Regions from separate parts of the Homo sapiens genome. Here regions 2 and 3 are each linked to region 1. Evidence: fine-mapped expression QTL. A gene starts in region 1. Each other region holds a variant in brackets. All regions are shown on one strand. Distances are from middle to middle.

Region 1 (2,759 bases):
GTTAAGCAGAATTCTCTAAAAAAGCTCGATTAACCATCCTTACAGGTCACAGAAAACGTTTTTGCAGAGTTCTAGCTTTGGGATTTCAAATTCCATTGTTTTCTGGAGGCTGAATTTGACGTTATCCCTCTCTACAAATGCTTTTCAAAGGACAGAAAGAAGCCAGACAGAACACGCTTCCCTGCACTATCCGACTCTGCCTAACATTCACTCAGGCAAGACTTCAGAACAGATCTAATCATGCAGGATGAGCAAAGCAGACCACCACCTAGGAAAGCAAGCCAAAATCAGTCTTCCCCACCCTCAACAGATTCCAGTTGCTCAGGAGCTGTATCCACGCTCAACCTGCGGACACCGGCCTCCTAAAGAACCTGCAGACCAAACGCCCACCTAAGGTGCTGCCACTCTAGCTCCCGGAGCTCCAGCGAGACCAGCGCGCCCCCACAGGGATCCCGGGGCAGAGAAAAGAAAACTGCAGAACAAACGCACTGCTTCTTCAACTAGGCAACAACACCGATCAATCCTCCAACTAAGCATTGAGTAAATCTCATCCAGAGAGAAGGAGACCTGAACAAAAACGTTTCAGGATGCTGCCCAGCCTGCGCGGTAGCACCAAAGCCCTCTCCCGCCCTCAGCGGACCCAGCGCCTGCGGAGCCGCGCCCACCCCGAGAGACTGCCCGGGGGCCAGCTAACTCGCCCCGTCGCCCCCAAAAGACTGGAGACCATGCCAAGTTACCGCCCCGCTCCGGGCAAAGCAGAAACCCCGGCCAGACGCTGGTCGCCGCTACACACCCTCAGCCCCCAACAACCCCCCAAGGCGGCCCCGGCCCCAGCGGAACGGATACATCGCTCTCTCACCCGGAGACACCGATGAACAGACCCCTCTCCCCAGAACCCGGACACACTGCTTCTTCATCCCAGCAATGCGAAACGGACGCCCACGCCCGCTCAAAGAACCCCCAAGACCCCGATGATCTGCCTCCAGAGACAAGGTTTACACCGGTGTAAACCTTGCTAAACTGCATTCTCTGCCCCAAAGAGCTCGGGACCCGGGTAAAAAGACCCCTTGTCCCGGAACCCCGCTACACCACCTCCAAGAAGCTCAAGACCCTGATAAATCTCCCTCGACGTCAAAGACCTAGGACCCCGTGTGCCGCCACCCACCCCTACCCCAAGCCGGAAGAGCCCCCAGGATCCCTAATACATTGCCCCCTCACCTCGGGAGCTCCGGCACCCGCTACACCGCCCTTGGGCGCCCGCGCCCGGATCCCACTGCACCGCCTCCTCGCCCCCCGGACTCCCAAACCCCGCCAAGCCTCGCGCCCACCAGGCAGCGCCGCGCAGCCCCCAGAGCCGCCCCCGTCAGGAGCCCGCCTGCTCCGGCTGCTCCGTGTCCCCGCTCCCCGACCGCTCCTCAGCGGAGACGCGCTCCGGGCTTTCTAACCTGAGCAGCGTCGGAGGGCGAGCAGACACGGGAGCCCTGAGGAAGAGAAGGAGACAGCAGAGAAGGGGTGGCTCAGGCCTGCGGTGCCGCAGCTCCAGCCTCTCGGCAAGGAAGCGCTTGTGTGAGGAGAGCCCTCCCGCTCCGCGCGCAGCCGGGAGACCGAGCCACCGCCGTGCCCGCAGCTCTTCCCGCGAGATCCCAGCCACGGCAAGGGGCGGGGCCACGGCGGGGGGCGGTAGCGGCAGCTCCTCGAGTGACAGTCCTGGCAGCCTGTCGGCTGCAGGACGGGCGGCAGGACTCGGAGTCTACTACGACCAATTGTAAAAAAGGAAAGGTGATTCTCCCCGCCCCTTCTCCGCCCCTCTTCTTCTCCGCTCCTCCTTAATAAACTGTGAGCAAAGGTAGTAGTGACCAGAAGTAGTAGGAGGCAGTGGACTTTCGCGGTAAGGTAGCTCGAATGACGTGACGTGCTTGGCTTGTGTGTGGTCCTGCTAGGCCGCCGTAGATACACCTGGTTTGGGGAAGAGGCTGGTCTTCACACCGGTGTAAACCGAGGTGCGGTTACCCTTGGTTACAGCGCTGCCCGAAGTGCGCTGGGGATTCCCATCTTCCAGGTTGAAGGCCCACCCACTCCGGTTACCCGCGTCTAAACCTCCATTTAATTCCTTTCCCCGATTTGGGCCTCTCCTCCCTCTCCACCTCAAACAGGGCACCATTGTTAAGATGCCCATGTTTTCCAAACCCCAACCCAGGACATCTGGTCTGACAAAGAACTCGTCTGATGACTGTATTTATTTCTACATACAGCCTTCCAGAAGAATGAAAAGCAAATCTCGAGTTACCAACATAACAAATTCCAAAATTAATGAAAAGTCGTACCTTTATAGACCCCAGTGCCCAGTAGTATTTGGCACACCCAGGGCACTGAATAATGTGAAAGGAATGAATTAAGACTGTTAAATATATGCAAATCTCGAGTTACCAACATAACAAATTCCAACATTACATGAAAAGTCGTACCTTTGTAGACCCCAGTGCCCAGTAGTATTTGGCACACCCAGGGCACTGAATAAGGTGAAAGGAATGAATTAAGACTGTTATACTTAAATATATTAAATCTGGACCTGGCCCCAGAAAATTCGGCTTTCCTAGCCTTTCCTCTATAATGTGAGCCAGTGGCTTCACCCTTAAATCCAGGCTCTTCATTATTATGCCTATCCTGTACCTTCATTCATCTTACCCTCTTCACTCCCTCACCCACAGCAAGAAGTGCCCTTTCTCCTCAAGGTTAAATCTTGCACCTGTGCCCTGGAT
Region 2 (2,759 bases), 29 kb after region 1:
TGTGTGTGTGTGTGTGTGTGTACATTTTAATATATATTTAACCTTGTCCTGGAGACCAGCTCACTGACAAACAAAACAAAATGCCCTCTCTGCCCTACCCAAGGACAGGAAGAGTATGGGCAGGTATCATAGCATTCTCAAGCACCCCACCCTCTGTGGTAGCCCTTGCTCTCAATTGCCTGGTAGATGCATCCACCTCAAAGCAACAAGTCCCAAATAGCAAGCATCACCTTCCTCATGCTCTGGCTCCCTTTCCTGATAATCCTGATGGAGACAGGATAGCCTAGTGGCTGAGGATACAAGGCCTGCGACGCAGACTGCTGGGTTCACGTTCCAGTTCTACCATTTACTTGCTGGGTGACCTTGGGCTAGTTACTTAAGTCTCTCTGTACCTCAGTTTGCCTATCTGCCTAATGGGGAGAATAGTGGTACCTGCCTCATGGAACTATTCTGAGGATTACATTCGTTAATACACTGTATATACAGATTAAGCACCATACAAATATGAGCTATTAGCATTTCCATGGTTCTGCACACAGGGCCCTTCTGACTCTTCCCAGGCCCAAAATGTGGGGCAGGCTTGGCTCCAGTCACACTAGTTCATGACTCTGGGCCCCAACTACGCTTTATACTTCTGGTCTTGCCTTTGCTTATGCCATAGCCTCTTCTGAGACTGTTTCCCACCCCTTCCCCTATCCTTCATCTTCTCTTCCATTCTGCCTCTCCCTGAGTGGCCCCCGTGGACCCCTGCTGAGGGGGGCTTTCCCTCTTCAGAAATCTTAAAGCAACACCTCCTCCGTCTTTTGCAGGGTTCACTCCCAGGCATGGCCTTGCACTGCCGATTGCCTTCTGTTTTTCATGAAGAAGAAGGGTTCACTTTTCAAAAGTTTAATTTTAGGAGCCTTGAATTTAGCTTCCTACCACTGGGTCGGCTCTCCTAATAGAGTCAGTCGCCACAGATAGTAACACCCTGTTCCTCTTTCCTTCCTTCAATGTTTAAAGTTACTGATTCACTTTCAAGAGTGGCTCTTTTTAAACTGTGTGATGACATTTTCTCCCTAGCAAAGGCCTTGAGGGCATTGTTCAAGCACCTCCCCAGGGTACCTTGAGAACTGCTCAATAAAGATGGCTCTATTGGTTAATCGAGTGACTGGCTGATCAAAAGACCTTCCAACAATCTGTGTGCAGGGCTGTAGAGCCAGCTCAGGGAGCAGG[A/G]AGCCTGGTCACAGGGCTGCAGTATCCTGGTCCCAGAGAGGAAGTGAATCTCAACTTCTGTAAGCCCTCCACCCTAGTGTCTCTCATCTTACTGCAGTTTCCCCTTTCCCTGGGGCACACTTAGGTCCCAACTGGCTCCTGCAAGCAACCTGCTGGGCTCCTGCTCCATCAGGGCCAAAAAACCCATCTCCTATAAGTGCTGGTGCTGCCTTGATGAATTCTGCCTGGCAGGAGGACTGTGGCCCGGTTGTCCAATCGATAATGCCCAGCAGAGGCCTTTTGAGAACAGAGCCAAAGAAAAATAGCAAGCGTTGTTTGCTTAGTAAATGAAACTTTGCTAGGGACAGTATTTTCCTTCTTTCTCTTTTTTATCTTAGCAACTTGTCAGTTATTCTTGCTTCTCTTTCCTCTTCTTTTGCCCCTCCTCTGCCTCTTCTCTCTCTCTCAACTCTGTCCTACAGCAGCAAGGCAATAGCTTTTAGCATTGTTACTTGTGCCTCAAATAATTCTTGGAAGATGAAATATAAAATAAATGAATGGATGAGGCCAGGTGTGGTGTCTCACGCCTGTAATCCCAGCACTTTGGGAGGCCGAGGCAGGTGGATTACCTGAGGTCAGGAGTTCAAGACCAGCCTGGTCAATATGGCAAAACCCTGTCTCTACTAAAAATACAAAAATTAGCAAGGCATGGTGGCAGGTGCCTATAATCCCAGCTACTCAGGAGGCTGAGGCAGGAAAATCACTTGAACCCAGGAGGCGGAGGTTGTGGTGAGCCAAGATCGCAACACTGTACTCTTGCCTAGGTGACAGAGCAAGTGTTAAAAAACAAAAAAGAAAAGAAAGAAAAAAAGAGAAAAGAATGGATGAATGGATGGATTAATGCATCACAGTAAGCTGAGCACATGTCACTTGAACTTGTCTGCCCATTTTTTAAAGGGATTCTTTTTTCACCTAGTTTTCCAAAGTCATAAGGATAGAGACAAATTAAATGCTGGACAAACCTTCCTAACAATGCTGTTTTCTTTAAATTAGGGATTTCCTCACTCGTGTTTGTGGGTTGAGTTTGTCAGGCTATTGTGTCCTTCCTGGGTAATTTATCTGTAATCTAGGTATGCTGTCACCAGGAGGTGGGTAGGTGGTGCTCCCCTGTGGCCTGCTATCCAAATGTCTAGGGTTTCCATAGTCAACGTTAAGAAACACAAAGTTAACTTACTTTGTTCAATTCCCTTGTTTAACAGTTGGGGAAACTAAGAGTTAGTGGGATTAGGGGACTGGCCCACAGTCATGCAGTGAGTTAGCAAGAGCCAAGGCTAAGGAAGACAAACAGCATGAGTTTCCTGGAGCCTGGAGCAGGGTTATTTGGGATTGGAATCCATCGAGGGCTGTCTTTGCCTGGAAGGGTAAAGAAAATTCCGATGATCAAAATCTCAAAGGAGCCCCCACACTTAAGCCACCTTCCTCTTCTAATGTCTAATTTCTAGTTTGCTAACATTTGGTTGAACAGGAGAGTGGAGGTTTCTCCTCCTTCAGATGCATTTTTTAAA
Region 3 (2,759 bases), 130 kb before region 1:
TAAATGAGATGTGGTCCCTAGCCCTGAGTAGCCCTTTATGGGACTGTAGCAGAATCCCCTGGAGGGCCCTCCATCAGTTGGAGGACACAACTGATTTTGGGCCCCACCCACAGAGCTCCTGATTCAGTAGGTCTGGGTTGGAGCTGAGAGGCTGCACTTCTCAGAAACTCCTAGGAGAGCCGCTGCTTGGGAACCACATTTTGGGAACCACTGGTGTAGGGCAGTGGGCCTCAAACTTTAATGTGCCTTCACCTGTTCTGGAGAATCTTGCTAAAATGCAGGTTCTGAAGTATGAATGGGCTTGTTGATTTGTGGATATGTCTACTGCCTGACTCCTCTGTTAGAATGCATGGTCCCTGAAAGCAGGGGCTCTGCTGTGATTGCCCCTGCTGGGTCCCCAGACCCTGGAGCTGAGCCTGGCTATAGATACCCAATAAACATCTGTGGCATGGATGGGCTTGGAGCCCATGAGAACAGTTTAGGCCAGACACAGTGATGTGGGTGTCTTGGGTGCCCTTGCTGATGCCACAGAAGTAAATTAAATCCCACAGGGACAGAATGAGGGCCAGGAAGGAAAAGGGGAAGGAAAGGATCCCCAGGGACCTCCACCCCAGGAGAGGGACTCAGCAGGAGTGTCAGTGAAGGAGACGGCCAGGGGAGGAAGGCGTTCCCGTTGGAAGGAAAGGCAGCAGCACCAAGAGCTGAGAGCCAGAGGAGGCTTCTGGGAAAGGCTGTTGAGAGGGAAAACTGAGGTACATGACTTCCACTGCTGGGGGTCTCCACAGTGGCATCTCTTACAAGAAGGGCTGAATGATGACTGGAGGGGGGGCTCAGATATATGTCTATGTTTTTCTCTCATCGCTTAAATAATTTATAAAAATAATATGTGTGTGTTGGAAAATATTTAGGAAAAGTCTAAGAAATAGAAAGAAAAAAAATGAAATTTCTATAATTGCCACACCCAGAAATGAGGCCTGTTTATATTTTAATGTATTTCAGTGTTTGTTGAACACATGTACGTAACATATACACAATTTTCCTTCAAGTTTGGATTAATATTGTGTATATCTTTAAATTCTCTTTCTTTTACTTAATACATTTTTCCAAAACTATTTTTCATGTTATTTTAAAGTGCAAAACATAATTCTTAAGGGATGGATAATAACCTTTTGCACAAATACACCCTAATTTATTTAACTAATCACTTATTTTTGAGTATTTAGATCATTTTGTTGTGGTTTTAATTTATATTACCCTTAGACTATGATGTTCAGCATCTTTGCGTGTGTGTGTGTGTGTGTGTGTGTGTGTGTGTGTGT[T/GTGTGTT]TGTCATTCTCATTTCTTCTTTGGTGAAGTATCTATTCAGTCTTTTGCCTATTTTTAATTGGCAAAATGTACTTATTTTCTCACTGTTGAGTCTTTTTATGTCCTTTGTCAAATATATGATTTGTAAATATTTTCTGCCAGTCTGTGGTTTGTGTTTTCATTTTCACTTTTTTTTCAGAGCAAACATTTTTAATATTGATAAAATCTCATTTATCATTTTTTTCTTATAGATTATTCCTTTAGTATCTGAAGGTCACACATATTTTCTCCTATATTTTCTAGAAGTTTCATAGGTTTATGTTTTACACTTAGGACTATAATCCATTTTGAGTTCATTTTTGTGTAAGGTGTGGGTATGTGAGATCCTTTCTTTTTTGTTTTGAATATAGATATGTGAGTGGAAAAAAGCCACAAATTGAAAATGTTTTTTATCTGCTCTCACATCACAACAATCAACACAGAAGACTTCTGTGCCCACATATGTGAGGATTTCTCTCACCAGCAAACAAGCAATCAGTTCTGCAGTGGACACCAGCTGGGTGTCCTCCGATTCAGTTCTGACACTCTCTACCTAAAGACCGCGTCCGATCCCAGAGGTTGAGGGCTCTGGGTGTCCTCCGATTCAGTTCTGACACTCTCTACCTAAAGACCGCGTCAGATCCCAGAGGTTGAGGGCTCAGTCTCACAAGACTGCCCCCCGACTTCCGCCGCCAACCGCAAGCCCCTGGTTGTTTTACCTGTGCTTCTGACCAAGCAGGTATAAATCAGGGTCCCCACTACCCTCCCCCTGGGTTTGATTAATTTGCTGGAGCGGTTCTACAGAGCTCAGGGGAACACTGCTTATGTTTACTGATTTATTATAAGGAATATTATAAAGGATACCGATGAGGCGACACATAGGGTGAGATATGGGGAAGGGGGACAGAATTTTCATGTCCTCCTCAGATGCAGCATTCTCCGTAAACCCCACGTGTTCAGCTACCGAGAAGCTCCTGTACCCCTTCCTCCTGGGCCTTTTTTTTTTTTTTTTTTTTTTTGAGACGGAGTCTTGCTCTGTCGCCCAGGCTGGAGTGCAGTGGTGCAATCTCGGCTCACTGCAAGCTCCGCCTCCCAGGTTCACGCTATTCTCCTGCCTCAGCCTCCCAAGTAGCTGGGACTACAGGCGCCCACCACCACGCCCGGCTAATTTTTTTTTTTTTTTTTTTTTTTTTTTTGGATTTTTAGTAGAGACGAGGTTTCACCGTGTTAACCAGGATGGCCTCAATCACCTGACCTCGTGATCCACCTGCCCCAGCCTCCCAAAGTGCTGGGATTACAGGCGTGAGCCACCGCGCCCGGCCTGTTTTTTGTTTTTTTTTTTTTTTTTTTTAGACAGGGTCTCGCCCTGTTGCCCAGGCTGGAGTGCAGTGGTGCAGTCTTGGTTCATTGCAGCCTCAACTC

Alleles and levels. Alleles are on the strand shown, and positions count from the first base shown. SD is a standard deviation of normalised expression in the study named. Not every link is listed here.
In carriers of allele T in region 3, the expression in CD4 T cells of the gene that starts at base 1,568 in region 1 tends to be lower than with GTGTGTT alone (large effect, 1.4 SD a copy in BLUEPRINT).

What was found.
Region 2: its variant is fine-mapped to the expression of GLCE in blood mononuclear cells (TOPMed, PIP above 0.99). The same link has a PIP of 0.9 or more in monocytes and whole blood.
Region 3: its variant is fine-mapped to the expression of GLCE in CD4 T cells (BLUEPRINT, PIP 0.95).

What each region holds. Positions count from the first base shown.
Region 1 is chr15:69,159,444-69,162,202 of GRCh38, reverse strand. GLCE (glucuronic acid epimerase) reads right to left here and starts at 1,568. Exons shown (of 5, transcript NM_015554.3): 1 at 1,446-1,568. It also overlaps the pseudogene LOC100421574. RefSeq lists silencers at 1,189-1,298, 1,499-1,708 and an enhancer at 1,406-1,906.
Region 2 is chr15:69,130,261-69,133,019 of GRCh38, reverse strand. No RefSeq gene overlaps it. Among named protein-coding and RNA genes, the nearest start is that of GLCE, 29 kb to the left of the region's middle. The variant A/G (reference allele first, on the strand shown) is at 1,216.
Region 3 is chr15:69,285,236-69,287,994 of GRCh38, reverse strand. All of the region lies in intron 2 of PAQR5-DT (PAQR5 divergent transcript), which reads left to right. Among named protein-coding and RNA genes, the nearest start is that of PAQR5-DT, 12 kb to the left of the region's middle. The variant T/GTGTGTT (reference allele first, on the strand shown) is at 1,320.